4 separate regions of the Homo sapiens genome follow, and all the other regions are linked to region 3. The links come from fine-mapping of genetic effects on gene expression. A gene starts in region 3. Each other region holds a variant in brackets. All regions are shown on one strand. Distances are from middle to middle.

The links. PIP is the estimated chance that this variant, and not a neighbour inherited with it, causes the effect.
Region 1: its variant is fine-mapped to the expression of PSAP in whole blood (TOPMed, PIP above 0.99).
Region 2: its variant is fine-mapped to the expression of PSAP in whole blood (INTERVAL, PIP 0.94).
Region 4: its variant is fine-mapped to the expression of PSAP in whole blood (TOPMed, PIP above 0.99).

What each region holds. Positions count from the first base shown.
Region 1 is chr10:71,887,423-71,894,902 of GRCh38, reverse strand. No RefSeq gene overlaps it. Among named protein-coding and RNA genes, the nearest start is that of LINC03139, 13 kb to the right of the region's middle. RefSeq lists a silencer at 5,736-5,825. The variant A/T (reference allele first, on the strand shown) is at 3,922.
Region 2 is chr10:71,794,935-71,799,934 of GRCh38, reverse strand. CDH23 (cadherin related 23) reads right to left here. Exons shown (of 70, transcript NM_022124.6): 49 at 2,715-2,831; 50 at 1,357-1,581; 51 at 655-824; 52 at 306-443. Among named protein-coding and RNA genes, the nearest start is that of MIR7152, 6.7 kb to the right of the region's middle. The variant T/G (reference allele first, on the strand shown) is at 3,000.
Region 3 is chr10:71,848,987-71,856,206 of GRCh38, reverse strand. It overlaps PSAP (prosaposin), which reads left to right and starts at 4,956. Exons shown (of 14, transcript NM_002778.4): 1 at 4,956-5,025. The coding sequence starts at 4,986. RefSeq lists enhancers at 4,745-5,275, 5,276-5,806, 6,198-6,697.
Region 4 is chr10:71,814,170-71,819,169 of GRCh38, reverse strand. CDH23 (cadherin related 23) reads right to left here. Exons shown (of 70, transcript NM_022124.6): 70 at 3,223-4,218. The coding sequence ends at 3,892. PSAP (prosaposin) reads left to right here. Exons shown (of 14, transcript NM_002778.4): 12 at 59-139; 13 at 446-553; 14 at 1,694-2,872. The coding sequence ends at 1,729. Among named protein-coding and RNA genes, the nearest start is that of MIR7152, 26 kb to the right of the region's middle. The variant G/A (reference allele first, on the strand shown) is at 2,620.

The DNA of each region.
Region 1 (7,480 bases), 39 kb before region 3:
AAAAGATGACATGTCACTGAACAGTGTCAAAAAATAGCATTTGTTAGCACTGCCATCCATCGCATCAGAAAAATCTTTAAATATTGAGAAGTTGTCAAGCTTGTGGTGGTGTACACAAATTTTCCAAAATTCTAATTTTCCCTTGAAAGCTCCAAGTTCCAACTTTATCATTGGCAACAAATGCTTCAGTTTCTTGAAGGGACAGGCTCACTTTGCTCATTTATGAGAAAATGTCTGTCTGCCAAATGCCCAGATCTGAATACCCATCATGTGTCTGTTCGTCGTTCTTTCCCGTATAAACAGTGTTCTCGGCTGGGCGCAGTGGCTCACGCCTGTAATCCCAGCACTTTGGGAGACAGAGGCAAGCAGATCACGAGGTCAGGAGTTCGAGACCAGCCTGACCAACATGGTGACACCCCCCATCTTTACTAAAAATACAAAAATTACCCAGCCTGGTGGTGTGTGCCTGTGATCCCAGCTACTCAGGAGGCTGAGGCAGGAGAATTGCTTGAACCCAGGAAGCGGAGGTTGCAGTGAGCCAAGATCGAGCCATTGCACTCCAGCCTGGGTGACAGAGCAAGACTCCATCTCAAAAATAAATAAATAAATAAATTAATTAATTAATTTAAAAAATAAGATAAACTGTGTTCCCTGGACCAGAGGCTCGCGTGGCTCCACCTCTGACAAGTTGTTTCTGCGAGCCAGTCCCCTGCTCTGGAGCAGGCGCTCTGTGTGCATCCCTGCTTCATCACACAGGAGATCAAAAGGGTATGTACTTAAGTGACACAGGCATATTTTGTCCCCACAAGTGCTTATCTAGGGGAGTGCACAGAGACCTGCCTAGTCTGTGGCCACTGCCTTGCTTCCTGAAGTTCCAGCAGTTTCACCCATAGTGGCTTTTTTTTTTTTTTTTTTTTTTGAGGCTGGAGTGCAACGGCACGATCACGGCTCACTGCAGCCTCTACCACCCGAGCACAAGTAATTCTCCCACCTAAGCCTCCCATGTAGCTGGGACTATAGATGCGTGCCACCATGCCCAGATAATTTTATTATTATTATTATTATTATTATTATTATTACTTGTAGAGACGGGGTCTTGCCATGTTGCCTAGGCTGGTCTGGGCAAACTCTGCGGCTCAAGCTATCTGCCCGCCTCACCCTCCCAAAGTGCTGGGATTACAGGTGCGAGCCGCTGCACCCTGCCCACAGTGGCTTTTATGTCACCAATGCCATCACAGTGAAAAGGCAATACTGTCTTAGGATTGTGAGGGAAGGGTCTTAGGACTCCGGGACTCAGTGGGCAGCTGCTCACATTGCATGGGAAGCATCACAGATACCCAGCCACCAACGCCGATGGTGGAGGATGCTGTTTTGGTGACCTGAACCTGGGAGAGAAGCCGCTATCAGTGCTGTGATTCTCTGAAATGGTTAAACTCTTGGCGAAGTTCCCTACAAAACAAAGTCCAATCTTCCATTCATTTGTGTTCTCAGAGTATGTTTTAAAATATGCAAAAAGGCTGGGTGCAGTGGCTCACACCTGTAATCTCAGCACTTTGGGAGGTCGAGCCAGGTGGATAACCTGAGGTCAGGAATTCAAGACCAGACTGGGCAACATGGTGAAACCCCGCCTGTACTGAATATACAAAAATTAGCTGGGCATGGTGGTGCACGCCTGTAGTTCCAGCTACTCGGGAGGCTGAGGCACGAGAATCACTTGAACCCTGGAAGAGAAGGTTGCAGCGAGCCGAGATTGTGCCACTGCACTCCAGCCTGGCAACAAAGTGGGACTCTGTCTCAAAAATAAAAAATAGGCTGGGTGCCTGTAATCTCAGCACTTTGGGAGGCCGAGGTGGGTGGATCACCTGAGGTCAGGAGTTCAAGACCAGCCTGACCAACATGGTGAAACCCCATCTCTACTGGAAATACAAAATTAGTCAGGCGTGGTGGCGCATGCCTGTAATCCCAGCTACTTGGAAGGCTGAGGCAGGAGAATCGCTTGAACCCGGGAGGCGGAGTTTGCAGTGAGCCGAGATTGTGCAATTGCACTCCAGCCTGGGTAACAAGAGCAAAACTCCGTCTCAAAAAATACAATAAAATAAATAAAAAATAAAATAAAATAAAATATTCAAAAATACCTCATGTTTAGGTGTGAAATGGAGTTTGGTTTTTCAGTGACACGAATATGTGAAAGTGTCTTGTCTCACCCCCAGCCCTCAGCTAGGGTTGCCCCAAAAGTGGTGGCAGAGGAGTTCCCACAAGGGAGTGCCTGAATCATCCTGAAGGGGGGCCAGCTGGGATTCCAAAGAGAGAAGCACGAAGCGCCGGGGTGATGAGTCCAGGCTTTTATTAGGGGAGCTCACTTCCACAGGGCCGTGCACATCCTCAGGCAGCCAGGAGAGAAAGGGAGGTCCACCTAGGTGTGTCCACAGCCATGAGGTCAGGGTGTGGAATTTTTCTGAGGCTTTAAGGAATTGGGCTCAAGCCTGGGGCCAGTTTTGTTCAGGGTTTTGGGCAATAACCTAGACTTCTTTATCAGTGCCTGGGAATGTTCGAGGCCCTGGTTTGGGTTCAAGCCTGCTGGGAAGCCCTGCAGCTGGTTGGGTCATGAAACAGTCAAGGCACTCTAGATTTTCGGTCAGGACACGGAAAGAAAGTGGGACAAACTAGGGGACGCTACAGAAGGGACATTTGAAAATCAGAATACTTTGGACAGTTTTTTTGTTGTTGTTGTTCCAAAGGGCGGCTCTGAGCATTGCAGGATGTTCGGCCGTCCTGGTCTCTGGCCCAAACACCAGCAGTGCCTCCCACATCCCTGCAACAACCCAAACCGTCCCTATGAGTACTCAAAACGCCACGAGGCTCCAGCTCTGCCTGCTGGAGCCCCAAGGATCTAACCCCTCTGGAGCCAAGGACATGTTGCATGCCAGGGATCCCTTACTGGGTGACTGAAGCAGGGTTAGGGTCAGGGGAGGGACCCCAGTGAGCAGTTGATGAGCTCAGGTCGGCCATCTTGTGTGGTGCTGCTGGGAGGGTACAGGCCCAGAGCTGGGCACTTGCCGGGGAGACCAGATGTGTGTGCTGAAAAGTATCTGCATGATCTTGTCTTCAAGGAGCTGGTGAATGTCAGGCCTGGAAGGAGTTGAACAGCCAGGGAGACAGCAGGGCATGTGGCGTTTCCAGACCCTAAACCTGCTGTCAGCCTTGGGATGAGACCTCCCCAGGTGCAGCCTCACCCCTCCAGGGCCTGCATGCTGCGTGCTCTGCTTTTCCTTGGGCCTTCACATATGCCGCATCCTCAGCCTGCGGCACTCTCGCCGACCTGCTGTGTGTGCCTGGTGGACTTCCCTCCGCTTCTCACTTCAGATACTGCCTCCTCCAGGAAGCTCTCTCTGACCCCCTCAGTCTGAGCTGAGTGGCCTTGCAGGCCCTGTACTCACCCACTGAAGCATTTACCCCTCTCTATCCCTATTTGTGGGTCTCTCTCCCTAGTAGAGCTGGGAGTCCACAGAGGGCTCTAATTCTCTCTTGAATTCCCAGGCCTAACATAGGGCTGGCAACCATGGTCAGTAATATCTGTGGGCTGAAGGAGAAGGCAGAAACATAGAGTGGAAGGCAGGGAGGTGTAGGGAGACAGAGTTTGAGGGCAGGAAGGTTTGAAGGGTCAGAGGAGGAGGCGCCTGTGGAGGGTTGCAAAGACAAGAACGGTGCCAAGCCATGGCACGGAGGGAGGGACAAGGGCTGAAGGGAGAGACGCAGAATTCATGGTAGGGCCGGGCCCCAGGGACTCTAGGACAATGGCCCATGCCACTAGCCTGAGGAGTGTGCCCTCCGAGTGAGGACAAAACAAGAAACCATTACCGCGGAAGTGCACAGGCCCTAAAATGTCTAGAGTGCTGAGTTCACAGGACCCTTAAAGATCAC[A/T]AATCTGAGCCCGGTGTGGTAGCTCACGCCTGTATTCCCAGCACTTTGAGAGGCCAAGGCAGGTGAATCACCTGAGGTCAGGAGTTTGAGACCAGCCTGACCAATATGGTGAAACCTCATCTCTACTAAAATTACAAAAATCAGCTGGATGTGGTGGCGTGCACCTGTAGTCCCAGCTACTTGGGAGGCTGAGGCAGGATAATTGCTTGAACCCAGGAGGCAGAGGTTGCAGTGAGCCGAGATTGCACTACTGTACTCCAGCCTGGGCGACAGAGAAAACAAACAAACAAACAAACAAAAAACAAACCACTAGTCTGATTGACCATTGTATAGATGAGGAAAACCAAGGCCGAGTCCAATGTGACATTTCTGGGGTCAAGGCCAGTCTGCCCCTGGAGAATTTCTTGTCCATAGAGGCTTAGGGTTTCTTATGGCAAAATACTTCCCCTACTGCACTCACTTGCACTCCAATTCCCGCTACTATGCATTTCTTCAGCTTAAGGCACCTAAAGCAGAAATGTCAGTTTCAGATCCCACAGGGCTCCCATGGCTGGGTGTGGACACTTCCCATGGCTCAGTGGAGCATGCATGACCCTGCAAGAACAGGTCAAACAGGCCGTGTGATCCCTTGATCTGAACTGTTGGCTACTAACTGAAATTATGTTTAAAAACCAGACATGATGCCTTTAAGACTGTGCAAGTCAAGCAGATCCTTTAGGGGACAGACTCAGTGGCCAACTGTCTGGGAGGCCCAGTTGGGACTTCCCATGATTTTGGAAATGGACTTCCTCATTATTTTGGAAATCCCCCAGAAGGGTATCCTTGGAGCCTCTTAGTCACCGATACCAACGGTACCATACTCAGAGATGTTTTCCAAAAGGAGGCTCAAATTGGGAGGGCTTTGGGGGGCTGGAGGATGGTAGGGAGGGAGGAGGGGAGCAGAGGGCAGAGGGGAAGCTGGCCTGTACAGGATTGAAAAAAAGAGAGAAGGAAAGTTGCTTCCTTCTAATGTGCTCATTTATGCCATTCATACAAAATTCCTGAGTTTGTTTAACTCCTTCATTTTATTTTTATTTTTTAATCACTTTTTTTTTTAAAGACAGGGTCTTGCTCTGTTGCCCAGGCTGGGGTGCAGTGGCAAGATCTCCGCTCACTCTAACCTCTGCCCCCCGGGCTCAAACGATCCTCCTGCCTCAGCCTGCAGGTAGCTGGAACTACAGGTGCCACCACACTGGGCTCACCTCCTTCATTTTAGAGCTGAGGAAATGGAAGTCCAATAAAAGAGTGACTTGCCCAAAGAACCAGCAGGTGGTGGCAGGGCTACCCTGTGGTAGGGGTTGGGGGCAGAGGTAGAATCCAGGTCTCCAGGCTCTTTCCTCTCTCAGGAAGAAGGTGAGGGTGAGTGTGCCCGGCGCTGGCCTCAGCACCACACAGCTTATCTCCATTTTACAGGGAGAGGGAAGAACTCTTACAAGGTTCCACAAGCAGCCGGTATCGGCATGGATGAGACCCCCTCAGGTTGGATAAGTTCGCAGGAGAGACAATTTCCCATGGGCTGGGAGAGACGGTTGTTTCTTGGAAGAGATGGCCCCAAAGGGTGGACAGGAAGGGATAGAGAGAGAGAAACAGAGAGAGGAGAGGGAGAGAGAGAGAGAGAGAGGACACACAGAGAGAGTTAAAGATCAATAAACAGCGGGGAAAGGTGTGAAGTGACAACTGAGCCCTTCCACAGACTCTCTCCCTAGTTCGACTGCCCCCCACCCCCACCCCCAAGGGACCCACTCGACGCTGCCCGCGCATGCCCCAACCCGTTCGTGCCCCCGCCTGGCCGCGTGCAGTCTCGCGGATGCGTCAGGCCACGAGTGCGCCACTGCTCGCCCCGCGCTGCGTCCCAGCAGACCTGCGCGCCTCTCCTCTGCCCCGGTCTGCGCCCTCAACCCCGCGCTTCCGCTATATTCCGGAGGAATCTGAAATCAGATTCAGATGTGAAGCGCGGTTTCGGATCCTCTTTCGCTTCTCTATCTCGAGAAACTTGAAACTGCGTCCTCTAGGATTGCATCAAACTGCATCTTGAGCGTGGAGGAGGACTGCTGAGCCCCACGGGTTCGCCGGGCTGGAGAGGTCTTGCGCAACCTGAGGGTTGGGGAGAGAGGGGTGTTAGCGGAGGGAATGGGCCCTGACGGCCCTAGAAGCTTCCCCGAGCGCCTCCCACCTCCAGCGGACTTGCTGTTAAAAACGCAATTAATGCGTCCTGTGAGTCAGAATAAGGATGACTACTTATGGAAGAGGAAGGAGTGACTGGGGTGGGGCGCGTGGAGAGACTTCTGCTGTGGCTGGCAAAGTTCTTTTTCTTGGTCTCGGAGGCAGTTCACTTTGTAGTAATTAGTTAAGCCGTACATCAGAACCATTGGATTCTGTATCCGGGTTTTATTTTTACAATAAAAATACGTTTAAAATAATCAGTTACAGTTATAAAACTGAAATTCTTCCCATTCTAATTTTCTTTCTCTTTTTCTTCCTTCTTTCTTTCTCTCCTCCTCCTCCTTTTTCTTCTTTTGTTGTTGTTGTTTTGTTTTTTATTTTTTATTTATTTATTTGAGACAAGAGTTTTGCTGTTGCCCACGCTGGAACACAGTGGCACGATCTGGCTCACTGCAGCCTTGACCTCCTGGGCTCAAGCGATCCTCCCTCCTCAGCTTCCCGAATAGCTAGGATCATAGGCGTGGACCATCACACCCGGCTAATATTTTTTATTATTTATGTAGAGACAGGGTCTCGCCATGTTGCCCAGGCTGGTCCTGAACTACTGGGCTCAAACGATCCTCCTACCTCAGTCTCCTAAAGGGTTGAGATTACACGTGTGAGCCACTTTGCCCGCCTGAGCAGCTTTTTAAGTCAGGCATTGAGTCAGTATCTCTGGGGACTGAGAAGAGGTATATATTTTTAAAGTTCCTCCAGTTTTTCAAAAGGGCAGCCAGGATTGAGAAACACTGGGCTATCATGGTGGGATTCCATATTAAGATTTTGAAAGCCACAGGCCTTGAAGAAGGAAGCAGAGGCTCCCAGAAGCCCAGGTGGATGCTCTGCCTGAGCCCTCCCAGCAGGCGAGGTGCAAAGCTGGCCTGGAGCAGGAACTCCCACTGCCCACGCCAGGGCTCTGCCCTCAGACCACCCTGAGTGTGCCTCCTTCATGCAAATTTCTCTGTCTTCAGATTGGAGATCATGGGGTAAAGATATATGTATATGTGTGTGTGAGAGTATATATATATATGATATATATATATATATGATATATATGATATATATATATAAAAGATATATATAAGGTGTATATATATAAAAGATATATATAAGGTATATGTATATATAAAAGTATATATATATTTTTTTTAAATTAAGATTTAGGCCAGGCATGGTGGCTCATGCTTGTAATCCCAGCACTTTGGGAGGCTGAGGCAGGTGGATCTCCTGATGTCAGGAGTTCGAGACCAGCCTGGCCAACATGGTGAAACCCCGTCTCTACTAAAAATACAAAAATTAGCTGGGCATGGTGGCACAA
Region 2 (5,000 bases), 55 kb after region 3:
CCCATGGACTTCAATCATGCTTTTTTAGTGTGGAGAGGACACATCTCAGATGTTGTCCCACAAAGGGCTCATTCCAAAAGACTTGGCCACTTCCTTAAACATCTGTTGAGACAGAAAGGCCACAGTCTACCAAATGTCTGGGACTCTGAGAACAGGGTTTGCTGACTTGGCTAAAGAACCTCTGGGGATGCAGATGTCCAGGCGACAAGACCCAGAGGGATTACTACAATACTTTTGGTGGCTGCTCAGTCTCTGACCCTGGGTCCTTCCCACTTCCAAATTCCAGGCCCTCCATCACTGCTCACCGTGGTGGGGTTGATGGCAAACTTGCTCTCTCCATCTCCAAGGCTGTACTCAATGAGTGCAAAGTTGCCTGAGTCAGCATCAGTGGCAGTGACTGTCAGGATGATTGTGCCCACAGGCACATCCTCAAAGACAGCCTCCTGGAGCCCAGGGGGCAGGGAGAGAGAGTAGGCCAAGGTCAGTCCCAGAGCCCGAGCACAGCCCTAGAACTCACTGATGCAGGCATCAAGCTGCTCGTGGGCTGGGCACTCCCAGGGGGCTTAGAGGCTGGCAGGGTGGGAGAGGAAGATGCCCAAAGACCCCAAGGAATGGGCGCAGGTCCTGGACCCAGCCTGTGGCCTGGCCACCCACCTGGTAGGAGGGCTGGTCAAAGATGGGGTTGTTGTCATTGATGTCCACGATTTCCAGGTAGACAGGGATCTCAGCTGCCCGGGGCGGGGACCCGTTGTCTGAGGCCCTCACGGTAAAGTTGAGCCAGTGCACCTCCTCGTAGTCCACTGTCCGGTTGGCAATGACCTTCCCTAAGACACAGAGGCTCCCACTGCCATTTTGGCCACTCCTCATTCATGGCAGCTCTCCAAAGTATGAGGAGAAAGACCTGGACTCCGAGGGGCAGCTGTGGTCACTTGAAGGAGGGTGGTCAGGCAGCACCACCCAGTTGCAGGGCACACGGCAGGGAGGGACTGGTGTCCAGTTTTTCTTATGGAGGGTGAAAAAGCTTCTCCCAGTCACAGGAATGAGCATCAACTAGCCCAGGACCTGAGACACCTCCTTCTTGGCCTTCCTGCTCCCTCGGTGGTACTAATAGTAGGAGCTTGGGTGGTGGGGTATCCCAGGTTTCCGGCAGACATCAAGAGGCTTCCATCCCAACCCAGGAGTAAGCACTCTGTCCCTTCCCCTGGTTTGGGCATCTGGAATCTGGCATGGAATGCTGGCCATCTTGGATCTGGCCCAGTCCACTGAGGAGCCACAGAGGGGCTGTGGTCTCTCTTGGGGACTAAGCAAGCAGAGATATATGTCCCCCAGCCCTCCTCTGACAGATTTCTAACCTACCTGCCGAGGAGTCCTCCAGCTGGACATACCCTGGGGGCACCAGGTCCAGCAGGGTGTAGGTGACCAGCCCATTAAGGCCCTTGTCAGGGTCCACGGCTGCCACAGCAATGAGTGTGGTCCCAGGGGTGGCCCCCTCCAGGATCCGCTCCATGTAGTAGGTGATCCCAAAGGGCTTGAACTGGGGCGTATTGTCATTGACGTCCAGGACGTTGACAGTCAGCTTGGCTGTGGTGGAGGCAGGGAGTGAGGGAGAGGGGAAGGACACTAGTGTGGCTGGGCCAGGCCTTCCTTAGCCTCAGCCAAGCCGGGTGAGCATGGCAGCATCCCACAGCCCCCCAGAGGCTGCCTGAGGATTGACCTGACCCTCAGGCTGCAGCACAGGAGGCTTTCCAGTGGTGTGCTCACTTGCTGTTCCATAAGAGGAAGGGCTAGGTGACCCTGGTGGAGCCCTCGGCCCTTCCTGTGCCCCGGTTTCCTAAACTGCTCAATGAGAAAGGGCAAGATAATCTTTAAGACCCTAGATCCTGTCTGAGCTGTATGTATCCCCTCTATGTAACCGGCCTGGGCCCTTAACCATCTGAGCCTCTGACATGGAAGAGATGACCAAGTCTGCCCTTCCTTCCGGAAAATGTGGGCTTCTGGGCTGTGAAGATAAGCAGTCATCATCTGCCAGGCCTGGCTTCCCCTATAGCAGCTGTCTGTACCTCATGGCTGAGGCAACTTGAGGCCACCCCATCCCCACTTCCCCCACTCAACTCTCGCTCTGCCCACACAAAATCCACCCCTCTGGCAGCCCCCTCCCAGCCCACGCCTCAGGCTGCAGGCAGGATGGCCTGGGCCCGATTGGCAGAAGGTAACACTGGGCCCCTCCGTTCTCCACCGTAAGTGCCTGCACCCCCAAAGCAGTGTCTGTGGCCTCAGGTTACCTCCCCTCATTCTTTGCTTCCTTTGTGCTAACCCTGTGGCTTCCTATAAGATCATAGGGTTCCCATCTCACATCCTACCCACACCCTGGTTACCAGTTCTGCTGGCTGAACCTAAGCCTCTGTCTAACCATTTTTTCTCAATCTGTTCCAGGCTCTACCAAGCCTCCTTCCTACTCTCAGCCTGGGGGTTCAGATCACACACAATTCTGAGCTTCTGGATCCTCCACTGCTGAGCTCTATGTAGCCATCACCACCCTGGGCCTCACGGTGGCTGCCACCTTTCATGCCTCTTGTGTTGCCTGACTCCTGGCCCCCAGAGCAACTGGGTCTTGTTGCTCCCTCCCTGGGGACAGACCAGTGCCTGTTCCCCACCTGCCCCCTGCCCTGATTGGCTCTGAGTGACCAATGAGAGATGTCTGCAGGGAACCTTACCATTTGGCACACTGACAGAGCGCTCTGGTAGGTCGCTGGCATTGTCAATCACTGAGAGAGTGACCTCATAGGTGGCAACCAGCTCCCGATTCATGGGGGACTTCACCATTACAGATCCTGTGGACCAGACCAGGCCAGGTTCAGCCTGAGAAGAACCCCCTAAAATCTGCCCTTCCCAGGGGTGCTCCTGGCCAAACCCTCCCAATCCCCACAAAGGATGACGGTCCCCAGTAGAATCTGGGACTTGTGGCTGGGGTGGGCCCACAGCCTCCTCATAAGCTTGGG[T/G]CACGTGGCTCTGCCCCTCCCATGATGCTTACTAAGCAGGTGATGTTGGGGAAGTTATGTCACCTCTCTGCACCTCTGTGTCCACATTTGTAAAACTAGATAATTACACTACCGACTGTCAACCCATCCTTTTCTCAATACCCTACTATTTTGAGGATTAGAAAAACAAAATGAGTTTCCATTTGTAAAGTACTTAGAACAGTGCGTGGCACACAGAAGCTATGTAACTGCTTGTTTAAAAACTGCTGTATTCCTTAACAATGCAAATGTACTTAACACTACTGGACTCTACAATTAAAAAGTGGCTAAAATGGTAAATTTCGTTATGTGTATTTTATCACCATTTAAAAAATGCTTAGATTCTAGGGAGATCAAGTTTAAAGGAAAGTCATGGTAGCTGAAAAGCCCTGAGGGGTTCCCTGGAGGGGACAGTGGTGGGACCGTCTGGATACTTCAGGCCCATCCCTTTGTCTTGATTAAATAGGGAGTGACATGGGCTGATTGTGGGACAGGAGCATTGGTTCCATGGCAGTCCTAGCAAGGGGTTTCCTTCTGTTCTACCCACTGCCTCCCAGAGTCCCTGCCTGCTCCCCAAATCAGAGAGGAACCCCCCAGAAGCATGGGCGGGGACTGGACAGACCTAGTTTGGCTGACCTCAGTGCTGCGTTTCTTGGGACCTTTCTTGTTCCTGCCTGTTAGAGGGCCTGGTGGCTTCTCCTCCCATTGGCTTCATCCCAGAGTGAGACCTCCTCTCCCTCTCAGGTACAGGGGTATCTGAGATTCCCTTCCCCCTTGGCAGATCCCCCTGCTGGGCTTCTGTCTTCCGTGGGTCCCCAGCCATGGGGTAGTCACTTACCCTGGGCCGCCTCCTCCTCCTCCTCCTCCTCCTCTTCCTACTCTCGCTCCCTGTCCCCCAGGCTGGGGAGCGAGGATGGGGAGAGGGCGGCTGCATTCAGTCTGCAAAGGCTGGGCCACGGCCTTGGCCCAGGCCCCACAGGACAGGAAGGGTGGTGGGGGTGTGGTGGGCATGGAGGAAGGCAATGGGGTGAGGCAGAGAAGAGATGAGGTGGGAAGTGACAGAGAAACAGAGCTCAAACCTGTGGGCCTGCCAGCCATGAGGAAGAGAGAAGAGGGTTAACATCAGTTAGTTCAGGGTGCAGCAGGGATGGAGCAGAGCAGGGCAGGGAGGATGGTGGGGACTCAGAGCTGACGGGGTGGGAGGAGGGAGGGAGGGGTGGAAACAGGGAGTGGGGAGGGGAAGAGGCACTGGGAAGGAAACCAGGGGAGCAAGTGGAAGCCCATTTGGAGTGGAGAGCTCAGGGGCTGAGGCTCTGGCAAGAAGAAAAGGTAGCAAAGTGGGCAAGGGAGGAGTGGAGGGCTGAGGAGGAGGGGGCAGAGAAGACACTGGAAAGAAAAATAGAGAAGAGAGTCAGCTGGAGGAAGGGGGAACAGGAAAGAGAAAAGCAGTAGGGGATTGAGCAGAGCCTCAAGTTGAGTAGGGACGTGGAGCAGCTCTCCATGGTCCTGACCAACCCATGCAGCCAGGAATTTTGCTAACCTGGGATGTAGCTGGTTCTATCTAACTTCTCCTAGTGCTCATGGTTTTTCCTTCTTCTGTTTCCCTTTGGGCCTCAAATGCAGATTGAGTTTATCATGTTCTTTGGCTCGCTGCACACTATGACCACTGGCACTTCTCTTGTTTTATGTGTGCGTCTACTCCCTTTCATTCCCATACTCATCTCTCCTTCCCTTCTCCCCTCAGGCAGTCATTGTAATGTATTGAAGTATATTTTTTGTTAATAAAAGTATTTCTGAAAATCATGTATTATTTTGTATGTATTTTACATTTATGGAAATGGTGCTGTGGCATATATCTCATCCCATTTATTATCCTTTTCAGTAAATACTTATTATTAGGATCCATCTACATTGCTCTGTGTGTGTCTAATTTATTGCTTCTCACCGCTGGCACTGCTGGCTGGTACCCCCATGATGCACACC
Region 3 (7,220 bases):
GTACTAGTTGTTAAATATTTGAATATTTGCACTGGATATATGCCTTCTTTTAAAAAGCAGTACCTAGAAGTCACAAATTGGGCACTTGTTTTTTTAAATCTCATTGGCCACAGTGAAGTCCCGTGGCTGCAAGGGAGGTTGGAATGTGTAGCTTTTATTTTAGGTGGCCATGTGCCCTGCTAGAAATAAGGGGTCTCATTAGTAACTATCAAATCAAGGAGAAGGGGGTGAATGATATTAGAGGGTGTAGCAGACTCTGCCACAGGGGAGGCTAAATAGGTGCTGAGAAGCACAGAGGGCTTGGTGAGCTTGGCTGCACTGTTGAGTGCTCCATCAGTCCAGGGGAGGTGGGGGTATAGGAGGAGAAGTCAGAGGTTGGGAATTGGTGGGTGATGGGAGAGGTGTCCCTGGGACAGCCTGAGCCTGCCTTGAGTGACACCTGAGGTCTCATTCCAGGCACAAGGACAAGTGCAGGCTAGAGGGTCTGAAGCCAGAGGTCTCGAGTAGGAAGATGCTGGAGGGAGAGAACCTGTCATTGTTTGAGACAGGGTGAGGGGTCAAGGGAGGCTTCCAGGGCATTAGGGGGCTCCAGGGTTGCTGTTTAGGGCACTGGAGTGGAGCCTTGGGGCCAAGCAGGTGGGCTGGGCCTCAATGGTAGATATGTCTTATCTCCTTGGCTGTCTTGGCCGGAACTTTCAGTTGTAGAAAAAGTAACAGATGGAGGCCATCTGGGGCCACAGGGAACATCATTATTATTATTTGAGATGGGGTCTTGCTCCGTTGCCCCGGCTGACAAGCAGAGGTGCACCACTGCAGCCTCAACCTCTTGGGCTCAAGCCGTCCTCCCGTCCCATAGCCTCTGGAGTAGCTGGGATCACAGACCTGTGTCGCCACACCTGGCTAATTTTTGCATTTTTTTGTAAAGACAGGGTTTCGTCATGTTGCCCAGGATAGTCTCCAACTCCTGGGCTCAAGTGATCCTCTCACCTTGGCCTCCCAAAGTGCTGGGATTACAGGCATGAGCCACCATGCCCGGCTGGAAAATTATTAAAAGGGTCTGACAGGTGGGGATTTCAAGAGATCTCAGACATGAAAATTGGGGCCTCATGCAGAACTGAGATCCAGAACTGGAAGGCCATTGAGAAACCTTAAGCGTGGCTCACATTTCTAAGGAAAAATATCTTTTCAGTTCCTTGAAGACTTGAGCTCCCAGAGGGTGGTAGTGGAAGGGATTTTCTTTTCTCTTTTAAAATTTCCTATATTAATTTTGTTTTTTAAAAATTGCAATGTGGACATTTCCATGAGTGAAATAATGCAAGATGAGTTAATCCAAAGTCAGAATTTCCCCCCTACTTCCAATTCTCTGTTCCCCTCCTGGCTGAAATCCTGCACTTGTGGGAGGGAGAGGGACAGGGTGGAGGGCCATGGCTGCCCGTGCATCCTCTCTTTGGGGTGCGGCAGGCTGCAGGATCTTTTTTTGTTTGTTTTTGGGGTTTTTTTTTTTTTTGAGAGAGTCTCGCTCTGTCATCCAGGCTACAGTGCAATGGTGCGATCTCAGCTCACTGCAACCTCTGCCTCCTGGGTTCAAGCGATTCTCATACCTTAGCCTCCCAGGTAGCTAGGATTACAGGCGCATGCCAATACACCCAGCTAATTTTTGTATTTTTAGTAGAGATGGGGTTTCACCATGTTGGCCAGGCTGGTCTCGATCTCCTGACCTCAAGTGGTCTGCCCGCCTCGACCTCCCAAATTGCTGGGATTACAGGTGTGAGCCACTGCGCCCGATGGGATCCAGGATCTAGAAGCTCTCCACCAGTTCTGCCATCCTCTCTGGGAAGTCAGCAGCAGGGCTTACTAGCAGATGGGGTTTGGCCTCTCACTCTGCCCATGTTTCTTGGGACCCACGTTCCTGGAAGACTTGCTGCAGCCTAGCCCTTGCTCCCTCCTCCTCCTGTTTCAAAGCTGCTTCAGTACCGTTGCTCTGTCCAGCCAGTTTCCACAGTCATCTCTTCATTGTTCAGCACTTGGGATCTTTCCAGCTTCCATGTTTCTAAAGGGCCCTTCTGTGAACACTTCGGACAAAATATTCCTTCACTTCTGGAGTATTTCCCTGAGGGTACATAGCTAGGAAAGGCATAAGAGAGCCAGAGGGTTTGAGGAGCTTCACAGCTCTTGTTGCCTACACGCAGATGGTTCAGAAGGTTTTTTTTTTTTTTTTTTAAGAGGATTTAAGCGTCTACTGACAAGGTAAAAAAATTAATAATAATCTACTTATTGCTTTTATATTCTTTGTTAAAATTCTGTCCTCATGGGGTTCAGGACGAGGCGGATGAAGCAGCATATTACTGTTGAGTTACAGGTGAGGAGATGAAAGGCAGCAAAAGTTTCTCTCAAAAACACTGACATATTCCTCTAGGTATGAAGGAGGAATATTTAAAAAAAAAAAAAAGGAGGGGTGTGGTGGCTCACACCTGTAATCCCAGCACTTTGGGAGGCCAAGGCAGGCAGATCACTTCAGGTCAGAGTTTGAGACCAGCCTGGTCAACATGGTGAAATCCTGTCTCTACCAAAAAATACAAGAAAACTAGCCAGGTGTGGTGGCGTGCACCTGTTATCCCAGCTACTCTGGAGGCTGAGGCAGGAGAATTGCTTGAACCTGGGAGGTAGAAGTGGCAGTGAGCTGAGATCGCACCATTGCACTCCAGCCTGGGTGATAGAGTGAGCCTCCATCTCCAAACAAAAAACAAAACAAAACAAAACAAAACAAAACAAAAAAAACAAGTCCTGGTTCAGGCTCTGTTGTTAACCAGCCCTGAGATGTCAGTAGCTCTATAAGATGAGAGGGGATGATCTGAGGTCTCTGAGCGTCCTTTTGGCTTGGGGTCCTGTAACCTCTGCATGGAGCACTGGGATGCTTTGCTCCTCCATCTGCAAGGAGCTGAAGGATGGGGGATTTGTCCTAGAGCCCCAGCTCCCTTGCTTTTTTTGTTTGTTTTTTTTTTGAGACGGAGTTTCGCTGTTGTTGCCCAGGCTGGAGTGCAGTGGCACGATCTCGGCTCACTGCAAGCTCCGCCTCCCGGGTTCACGCCATTCTCCTGCCTCAGCCTCCCGAGTAGCTGGGACTACAGGCGCCCGCCACATCGTGCGGCTAATTTTTTGTATTTTTAGTAGAGACGGGGTTTCACCCTGTTAGCCAGGATGGTCTCGATCTCCTGACCTCGTGATCTGCCTGCCTCGGCCTCCCAAAGTGCTGGGATTACAGGCGTGAGCCACCGCGCCCGGCTAGCTCCCTTGCTTTTAACCAGTTGTTGTGTGGTCTGCCCCACGCTTCTGCCTGGCCTTGGGAAGCCCAAAGGTGGAGCAGCCACGAAGTCTCCATCTGGCCACTGAGGCCGACCTGTGAGGCGTCCAGTTGAGACCACATCTTGTCCCAACTCACTCAGCTGCCTCACATGGCCCACTGTGGTGCATGGGGCACACTTCCCCATCTGGCTCCCCAGAGGAAGTCAGAGCTGTGGTGGGGGCTGGGGGCACTTAGGGAGATTGCAGGGGAGCAGAACTGAAGGTTCTGAGGCCTTAGTCCCTGGGGTTGTTCTCCAGAGCGGATTGCAGATTGGAGGAAGTTGGAGGAACTGTAGGTTTGCCCTTCCTGGGTCAGGAAACCTGGCTTCGGGCCAGGTTCTATCTCTACCTGTTGTGTGACCTTGGATAAACGTCTTGCCCTCTCCTAGGCTCAATGTCCCTACAGGTAAATGACCTCTAAGTGCCTGCCCTAAGGGGCTAAGATTCCCCTCCTTTCCCTGCCTTGCGGTTGGCAGGTTCTTATCCTTCTGGAGAGGGTCATCATCATTCTCTGTTCAGGTCCTGGCAGGGGCAGCCACAGGCAGAGGGTCTTTGGGTCTTAATTTCTGAAGGCTTCCATGTCACATAAAACGTTGATTACATAAATTTGTTATGCTTTTCTCTTAAGCTGTCTCGTTACAGGAGTGTTGGTTGTGACTCTTATGATCTCTTATGATGGGTGAGGAATGGTATTACATCTTTAACGGTACCACAATGTGAGGCTTAAAAGTTTTTTGTTTTTTTTTTTTTGGTGATGGGAATCTCTCTCGCTCTGTGGTCCAGGCTGCAGTGCAGTAGTGCGATCTTGACTCACGGCAACCTCCACCTCCCGGGTTTAAGCAATTTTCCTGCCTCTGCCTCCTGAAATAGCTGGAACCACAGGCGAGCGCCACCACGCCTGACTAATTTTTGTATTTTTAGTAGAGACAGGGTTTCACCATATTGGCCAGGCTGGTCTTGAACTCCTGACCTCATGATCCGCCCGCCTCGGCCTCCCAAAGTGTTAGGATTACAGGAGTGAGCCAGCATGCCCAGCCCAGACTTGCCTTTGACCAGGTGCCACCACCTGCCCCCACGTGCCCCTGGCCAGGACTGAGCCCTGTACCCTGTTACACGACTACTTATTCTATGTGAAACCCCAAGCTATTCTATGTGAAACCCGCTACTACAATGGGCTAATTTTTTTGTATTTTTTTTTTTGTAGAGATGGGGTTTCACCACGTTGCCCAGGCTAGTCTTGAACCCTCCGCCCGCCTCGGCCTCCCAAGTGTTGGGATTACAGGCGTCAGCCACCGCGGCCGGCCAACAATGTGGAGATTTAAAAGGTATTTTACATATATAATCTCTGACCTATTCAATTAGTAGGGCTTTTCTTTTATGACCTTTCCCTTCCCTTTCTCCAAGTTCTTCCTCACTCCTCCCCATAGCCCTTCCTTTCGCCCCTCCCATTGCCCCCTCCTATTGGCCTCCCCTTCGCGCAGGCGCCCTCAGAGGCGCTGAGTCAGGGCGCTGTTGAGCTCGGGCAGGCCCGGATGGGGCGGGGTTAGCGCCTGCGCTCTGGACGGCTTTGGGGCAGGGCAGATTTATATCTGCGGGGGATCAGCTGACGCTCCGCATTGCAGACTGCGGAGTCAGACGGCGCTATGTACGCCCTCTTCCTCCTGGCCAGCCTCCTGGGCGCGGGTAAGCCCTGGGACCCTCATCCTGGGGAGGAGGTGCCTCGCAGCGTCCATCTGCCCCAGAATGGGCTGTGCCGGGCCTGGCCCCTCTGCTCCCCCTGCCCTAGTTGGCAAGGGGGCGCGCGCACTGCGCAGGCGCGTTCGCTGGCTTTCTCTGGCTTTCTCTGGGCGGCTGGGGGCTGCGGGGGGCGGGCTGCGAAAATGCCCCCGGGAGGACGGCCCAGGCCCTGGGCAGCATCTCCTTCGGGGCTCGAGTGGGTTCCTGCGCGGCTGGGGCCCCGAGGCCTTCCCTCAGGCTGCGCTTCCCACTGTGGGGGTGGGTGAGTCTTGTAGGGTGACCCCTTGGGCAGCTGTGTTGTGCCTGTGCTGGGCGCACGTGATCGAGGTGGGCTGGAGCCCCGTCCCGCAGGACACTTTGGCCGTTGGCTTCAGTTGCCTGTTTGTAAGGGTAGCGAAGCTGCAGGAAGCACATGTGTATCATCTATATTGACGTTTGCATATGTATTTACTCTGGATTCTAGGTGTTGACAAAACGAGTCAAACTCTGTAAAAATATTTTGAGATTTATTCTGAGGCAAATATGAGTGACCATGGCCCGTGACACAGCCCTCAGGAGGTCCTGAGAACATGTGCCTAAGGTGGTTGGGATACAGCTGGGTTTTACATATTTTCGGGAGGCACGAGACATCAATCAAATACATTTAAGAAATACGTTGGTTTGGTTCAGAAGGGCGAAACAACTCAAAGCGGCGGGGGGCTTCCAGGCCATAGGTAAATTTAAACATTTTCTAGTTGATAATTGGTTGAGTTTATCTGAAAACCTAGAATCAATAGAAAGAAAGTATTCAAGTTAAGATAAAGGATTGTGGAGACCAAGTTTTATTGTGCAGAGGAAGCTCTCAGGTAGCCGACTAAGAGAGCGAGCACGTTGTAAAATATTTCTATGGAAATGAAAGGGTGACTGGCTCTTAGTTGATTATCTCCTGGATCTGGAGAGGAAGGAAGGAAAACATAGGGGAAAGGGGATTCTCTATAGAATGTGGATTTTTCCCACAAGAGACTTTGCAGGGCAATTTCAAGGTATGGCAAGGAAATATATTTTGGGGTTAGATATTTTGATTTTTTTTTCCTTGTCTTATAAAATGTTATGCCAGAGTCAGATTGGAAAGTAAGTCACGATATATGGGGTCAAATAAAACCCATCTGATGAGAGTTTATGGTTTGTAGGGTATGATTCCTACACCCCTTAGATAGGAATTTGGGCAAGCTAAAAAAAATCGGAGCTTAATTCTCATAGGTATTGAAGGCGATATAGGGTTTTCTGGTCCAGTTATTTTGCCATGGGGTCCTCATTTCACTTGCTTTGAAATGTCTTGCATCTGGGTGCGGTGGCTTATGCCTGTAATCCCAGCACATTGGGACACCGAGGTGGGAGGATCGCTTGAGCCTAGGAGTTGGAGACCAGCCTGGGCAACATAGCAAGACCCCACCTGTGAAAAAAAGAAAAAGAGAAAAGAAAGTCTTGCACGCTATTGGCCGTTTTTTTTTTGTTTGTTTGTTTTGTTTGTTTGTTTGTTTTTTGAGACGGAGTTTCGCTGTTGTTGCCCAGGCCGGAGTGGTGCAATGGCGTAGTCTCGGCTAACTGCAACCTCCGCCTTCCGGGTTCAAGCCATTCTCCCGCCTCAGCCTCCCAAAGTTCTGGGATTACAGGCGTGAGACACCGCACCCAGCCCCCACCACAATGTCTGTTTTTTAGTAACTATATGTAGTTTAAGGGCTGGCTGCCATTTTTAACCTAGCTACCCAAATTTTAATAAAAAGTAACAAAGTGGATGACAGGGTTGATGCAAAACCGAAGAAATGAGTTAGCTTTCAGCAGCTCTCAAGAATGTATCTTGACCCTATACGAAGCTCTTAAATTTGTTTTACTTGTACACAATGAAAGATGATCTGCTTATAAAAAAATCATTTTGATTTTATACTCAAGCTTATACTGCAGTTATTCCATGGTCTGTATAATAAACTAATGCTGGTCTCTAAATTTTTTATACTGATTCAGGGCAATTTTTTTTCTTTCTTTTTACATTATCCATTGTTCTTGTTGACGTTGAGTCACTCCTCACAAGACCCTTAAGAGTTCTGATTCATTCACATCACCCAAAAGGGACTCAATCGTGTCTCGGGAAATATAAAATCCAC
Region 4 (5,000 bases), 36 kb after region 3:
GCCCCACTATGCTCGGACACCCCCAGAGCTGGACCTGTGTCCCCACTTTCCTTTATAGTGTGATCAGTTTGTGGCAGAGTACGAGCCCGTGCTGATCGAGATCCTGGTGGAGGTGATGGATCCTTCCTTCGTGTGCTTGGTGAGCCTCACTGGGTGGTGTGGTCCTCTCGGGCAGCTGTAACCTGGGGGGCTGCAGAGACCCGGAAGGGTTGCTCTGAGACTTGGCCGTGGGGTGGAGTCTCTGGGTTCTGCTGCGGGAGAGCCAAGAAGGTAGGGAGCCAGCCCCCCAAGCCCCATCGCTTTCCTCAGCAACCCTGATGTTCTGAAAGAGCGTGGTGGAGCTGTGATCCTAGCTCCTTCTGGAAACTGTTTTCTTAGTTTTGAAAGCGATACATCGGGCAGCTCTCATTCTCCCCCTTTCTTCTTTCCTTTTCTCACCATATAGAAAATTGGAGCCTGCCCCTCGGCCCATAAGCCCTTGTTGGGAACTGAGAAGTGTATATGGGGCCCAAGCTACTGGTGCCAGAACACAGAGACAGCAGCCCAGTGCAATGTGAGTAGCTCAGCAGACAGTGTCACCAGCCTGTCTTGCCCTGGGGTAGCCTGTGTGAGAATCCTGCTTTAATGGGAACCCAGTGATCAACTCTCCACCCTGCTTTTATGTTATCAGAAAGCTGAGGCCCAGAGAGGTGGTTAGGCTTACTCATGGTCCCCTAGAAAAGACAGGGTGAACTACACTCTTGTAGTGAAGGGTGGGGTGGATTTTATTTATTTATTTTTTTTAGTATTTTTTTGCTTCTGCTTTGTTGCTTTTGTCTTCATTTCCCTTGTGACAGTGTCAGACTTGTACAAGGTCACTCCAGGGATTGTACAAGGTCTGTGGGATTCATTGCCCAGAGCTTTGCCCAGGTCCTGTCCCCCGGGAACATGTTTGCCCTTGCTGAAGCCGGGCCCGAGTCCTCACTCAAGGCCCTGAGAACTGGCCCCTGCCCAGCAGCCCTAGGGCACTGTGGCCCTGGCCTGGCCTGGCAGCCACCAGTTGGGTGACTTGTGCTGCTTCCCTGGGTGGGGATGTTTGGTTCGGTCCCTGTTACTTAATGTTGCTTTGTGCAACTTTTCCTTCCTCACCGGGCTTCCCTGTGACCATGTCAGTGGCGGTTGTGTCATTTCGGACCACTGCAGGGAGGGGCAGGGGGCCCCCATTCTGGCCATGTCCAGCTCTTTCCTCCAGCTAGGCTCCAGCCCATCTCCACCGCCAGCCCCACCCCACAGCTGGTTCTGCTGCTGTCCTGGGGAAATGTGGGCCTGCTTCTCAAGGCCCGAGCTGGTGTGTAGCCTAACTCAGGCAAGGAGGTTCTGCCTGGGAGTTAGTGTGCAGGCTGCTAGCAGGACGCTGGGTGCCGGGTGCAGGTAGATGAAGGGTCCTGAGCCCTGCCTGCGTGGGTACTCATCTGCAAACTGCTGCAGGCATCTGCTGCTCTGGACTCGTGCCTTAGAAGTTCCCAAAACTCTGATGGCCACGTGTTCCCTGTTTTTAAGTGAGATCCTGTCCTGGGTCTTCAGCATCTGGTGCCATCCAGCTGACCTAGGACAAGAGAACAGGTCCTGTTTTGGGGTGATATCTGATACATTGATGGGCCGGGAACGGAGTTTTTCATCCGAAGACTAAACTCAGCTTCCTCTCTCCTACCAGGCTGTCGAGCATTGCAAACGCCATGTGTGGAACTAGGAGGAGGAATATTCCATCTTGGCAGAAACCACAGCATTGGTTTTTTTCTACTTGTGTGTCTGGGGGAATGAACGCACAGATCTGTTTGACTTTGTTATAAAAATAGGGCTCCCCCACCTCCCCCATTTCTGTGTCCTTTATTGTAGCATTGCTGTCTGCAAGGGAGCCCCTAGCCCCTGGCAGACATAGCTGCTTCAGTGCCCCTTTTCTCTCTGCTAGATGGATGTTGATGCACTGGAGGTCTTTTAGCCTGCCCTTGCATGGCGCCTGCTGGAGGAGGAGAGAGCTCTGCTGGCATGAGCCACAGTTTCTTGACTGGAGGCCATCAACCCTCTTGGTTGAGGCCTTGTTCTGAGCCCTGACATGTGCTTGGGCACTGGTGGGCCTGGGCTTCTGAGGTGGCCTCCTGCCCTGATCAGGGACCCTCCCCGCTTTCCTGGGCCTCTCAGTTGAACAAAGCAGCAAAACAAAGGCAGTTTTATATGAAAGATTAGAAGCCTGGAATAATCAGGCTTTTTAAATGATGTAATTCCCACTGTAATAGCATAGGGATTTTGGAAGCAGCTGCTGGTGGCTTGGGACATCAGTGGGGCCAAGGGTTCTCTGTCCCTGGTTCAACTGTGATTTGGCTTTCCCGTGTCTTTCCTGGTGATGCCTTGTTTGGGGTTCTGTGGGTTTGGGTGGGAAGAGGGCCATCTGCCTGAATGTAACCTGCTAGCTCTCCGAAGGCCCTGCGGGCCTGGCTTGTGTGAGCGTGTGGACAGTGGTGGCCGCGCTGTGCCTGCTCGTGTTGCCTACATGTCCCTGGCTGTTGAGGCGCTGCTTCAGCCTGCACCCCTCCCTTGTCTCATAGATGCTCCTTTTGACCTTTTCAAATAAATATGGATGGC[G/A]AGCTCCTAGGCCTCTGGCTTCCTGGTAGAGGGCGGCATGCCGAAGGGTCTGCTGGGTGTGGATTGGATGCTGGGGTGTGGGGGTTGGAAGCTGTCTGTGGCCCACTTGGGCACCCACGCTTCTGTCCACTTCTGGTTGCCAGGAGACAGCAAGCAAAGCCAGCAGGACATGAAGTTGCTATTAAATGGACTTCGTGATTTTTGTTTTGCACTAAAGTTTCTGTGATTTAACAATAAAATTCTGTTAGCCAGATCTGGGCCTAATGTTTCTGTGACCCTTCAGCTGGAAGAGTTTGTTCCTCTCTGATGAGCTCTGAGCCCATGACACCTTTGGGGCCCAGCACTCCCATGACCCATCTTGGCCAGAGAATGAAAGCAAAGTGGATAAAGGAAGATCCCACCTCATCCTCCCCAAGACTCAGGGCCAGCAGTAGGTCAGGCGCACCTGAAGGTCGGCTCTGCTCTTCACCTGCCCCTGTCCCTGCTCCCTAGAGGCCAGAGTCAGAGCACGTTGCCAGTTCCTTGAGAGTTGCCTTGATTTTTAAACAAACCATTCCAGAAACTTGTAGTGAGTACCAGTTAAACAAAACCAAGGGGAAACTATTGAGGGAATAACTTAATTTAAAAAAGGAACACACACAAACACTCCACATTCAAAACCGGAGGGAACATCAGTCACTTCTGTTTATAAGCTGGGCACACATTTGGGAAGCCAGTGAAATGGAGAGAATGCTTGTTCATTGACATTGACTTTCTTGTCCACGTGGGGATGCCACCTCCACCTGGACGTCCAGCAGAGAGGGATGTGGCGGAAATGTAGCGAGACTTGGACTGGAGTCGGGTGTCCGGCCAGCAGGGGATGTCCGCGCTGGGCCTCCCTTGCGCCTGCTTAGCCGGAGGGGATGGTGCTTGCGGGGTGGAGCTGGGAGGGAGGAGGGCCTGTTTGGCCTCTTTCAGCTCAGCCTGAGCCAAGCTGGTCCCCAGACTCTTGGGCCCCAGTGACCCTCCTTACCTTGTCCTTAGATGCTTAACATTTTTGTTTGGTTTTCTTATAAAAATAACAGATCTTATGAAGGTAGAGGTCAGATGCTGAATGAGCGTCTGGCAAAAGTGGGATCTGAGCAGCTGATGCGGGCTGCCAGGGCCAAGCCAAGGTTGTCCCCAAGGCCTGGCCTTGGAGGGTCCCCCCCGACCGGCCCTGTCCCTGCCCTTGCTCCCTGGGAGGGGACGGTGGATGGGTGCTGCTCACACCCACAAGGCTTCCCTGTCTAGTCACAGCTCTGTGATCTCCAGGGGGGTCTCCATGATCACGTCGCGAAGTTTGTGCAGGGGTGTGGATTTGGCGGATTCTGTGCGGGCGTTGCGCTCGAAGGCAGTGGCCTCGGCAGCGGTCAGCGTCTCCAGCGAGCGGCCCAGGCCCTTCTGGTCTTCCTCGGGCAGGCTGTTGAGGTCGGTGGCCAGCAGCGTGCCCGTGCTGCCGTGCACCACATGGATCCCATCGGGCCCCTTGAGCTCCACTGGTGGCTTGTGGCGGAAGCGCAGGCTACCCTGCCCTGGGCTGTGGTCTCCTGGCTCCTCGTCCAGCTCAGTCTGTATCAGCTGCAAGAGGCCGGGACCCCCACATGCTCAGGGCCATGCCCAAGGGGTGAGCAGGTGGATGGCCCCAGAGACCCACTGGCTATGTGGCTGAACCTTGGGCTCCTACCGCAGCAGGCCTGTCAGACTCTGTTTCTCAAACTGCCTGCAAAGGGGAATCATGAATGCTTAAGTTGCTGCAGATGGGTTCTTGGGAGGATTGGCTTCTTGTGAAAATCTGTGTGTGTGTGTGTGTGTGTGTATCGGCTTCTTGTGAAAATTGTGTGTGTGTGTATCGGCTTCTTGTGAAAATTGTGTGTGTGTGTGTGTATGTGTGTGTAGACAGAGTCTCGCAGTGGCGCGATTTTGGCTCACTGCAATCTCCACCTCCTGACTTCAAGTGATTCTCCGGCCTCAGCCTCCCACGTAGGTGGGATTACAGGCACGCCATGTTGGCCAGGCTGGTCTGGAACTCCTGACCTCAGATGATCCACCAGCCTCAGCCTCCCAAAGTGCTGGGATTACAAGTGTGAGCCACCGCACCTGCCCTTTATTTATTTAGAGACAGGGTTTCTCTCTGTTGCCCAGGCTGGAATGCAGCAACGTAATCAAAGCTCAGTGCAGCCTCGGACTCCTGGGCTCAAGTGATCCTCCCATTTCAGTTTCCTGAGTAGCTGGGACTATGGGCGTGTGCCACCACATCTGGCTGAGAATCTTTAATTTTATGTATTAACTTTGGTGCTCTATAAACATCCTGGGATGCAACTGTGGTATCTGGGTTTGTTGCCAAATTGGCCTCAAGCAGA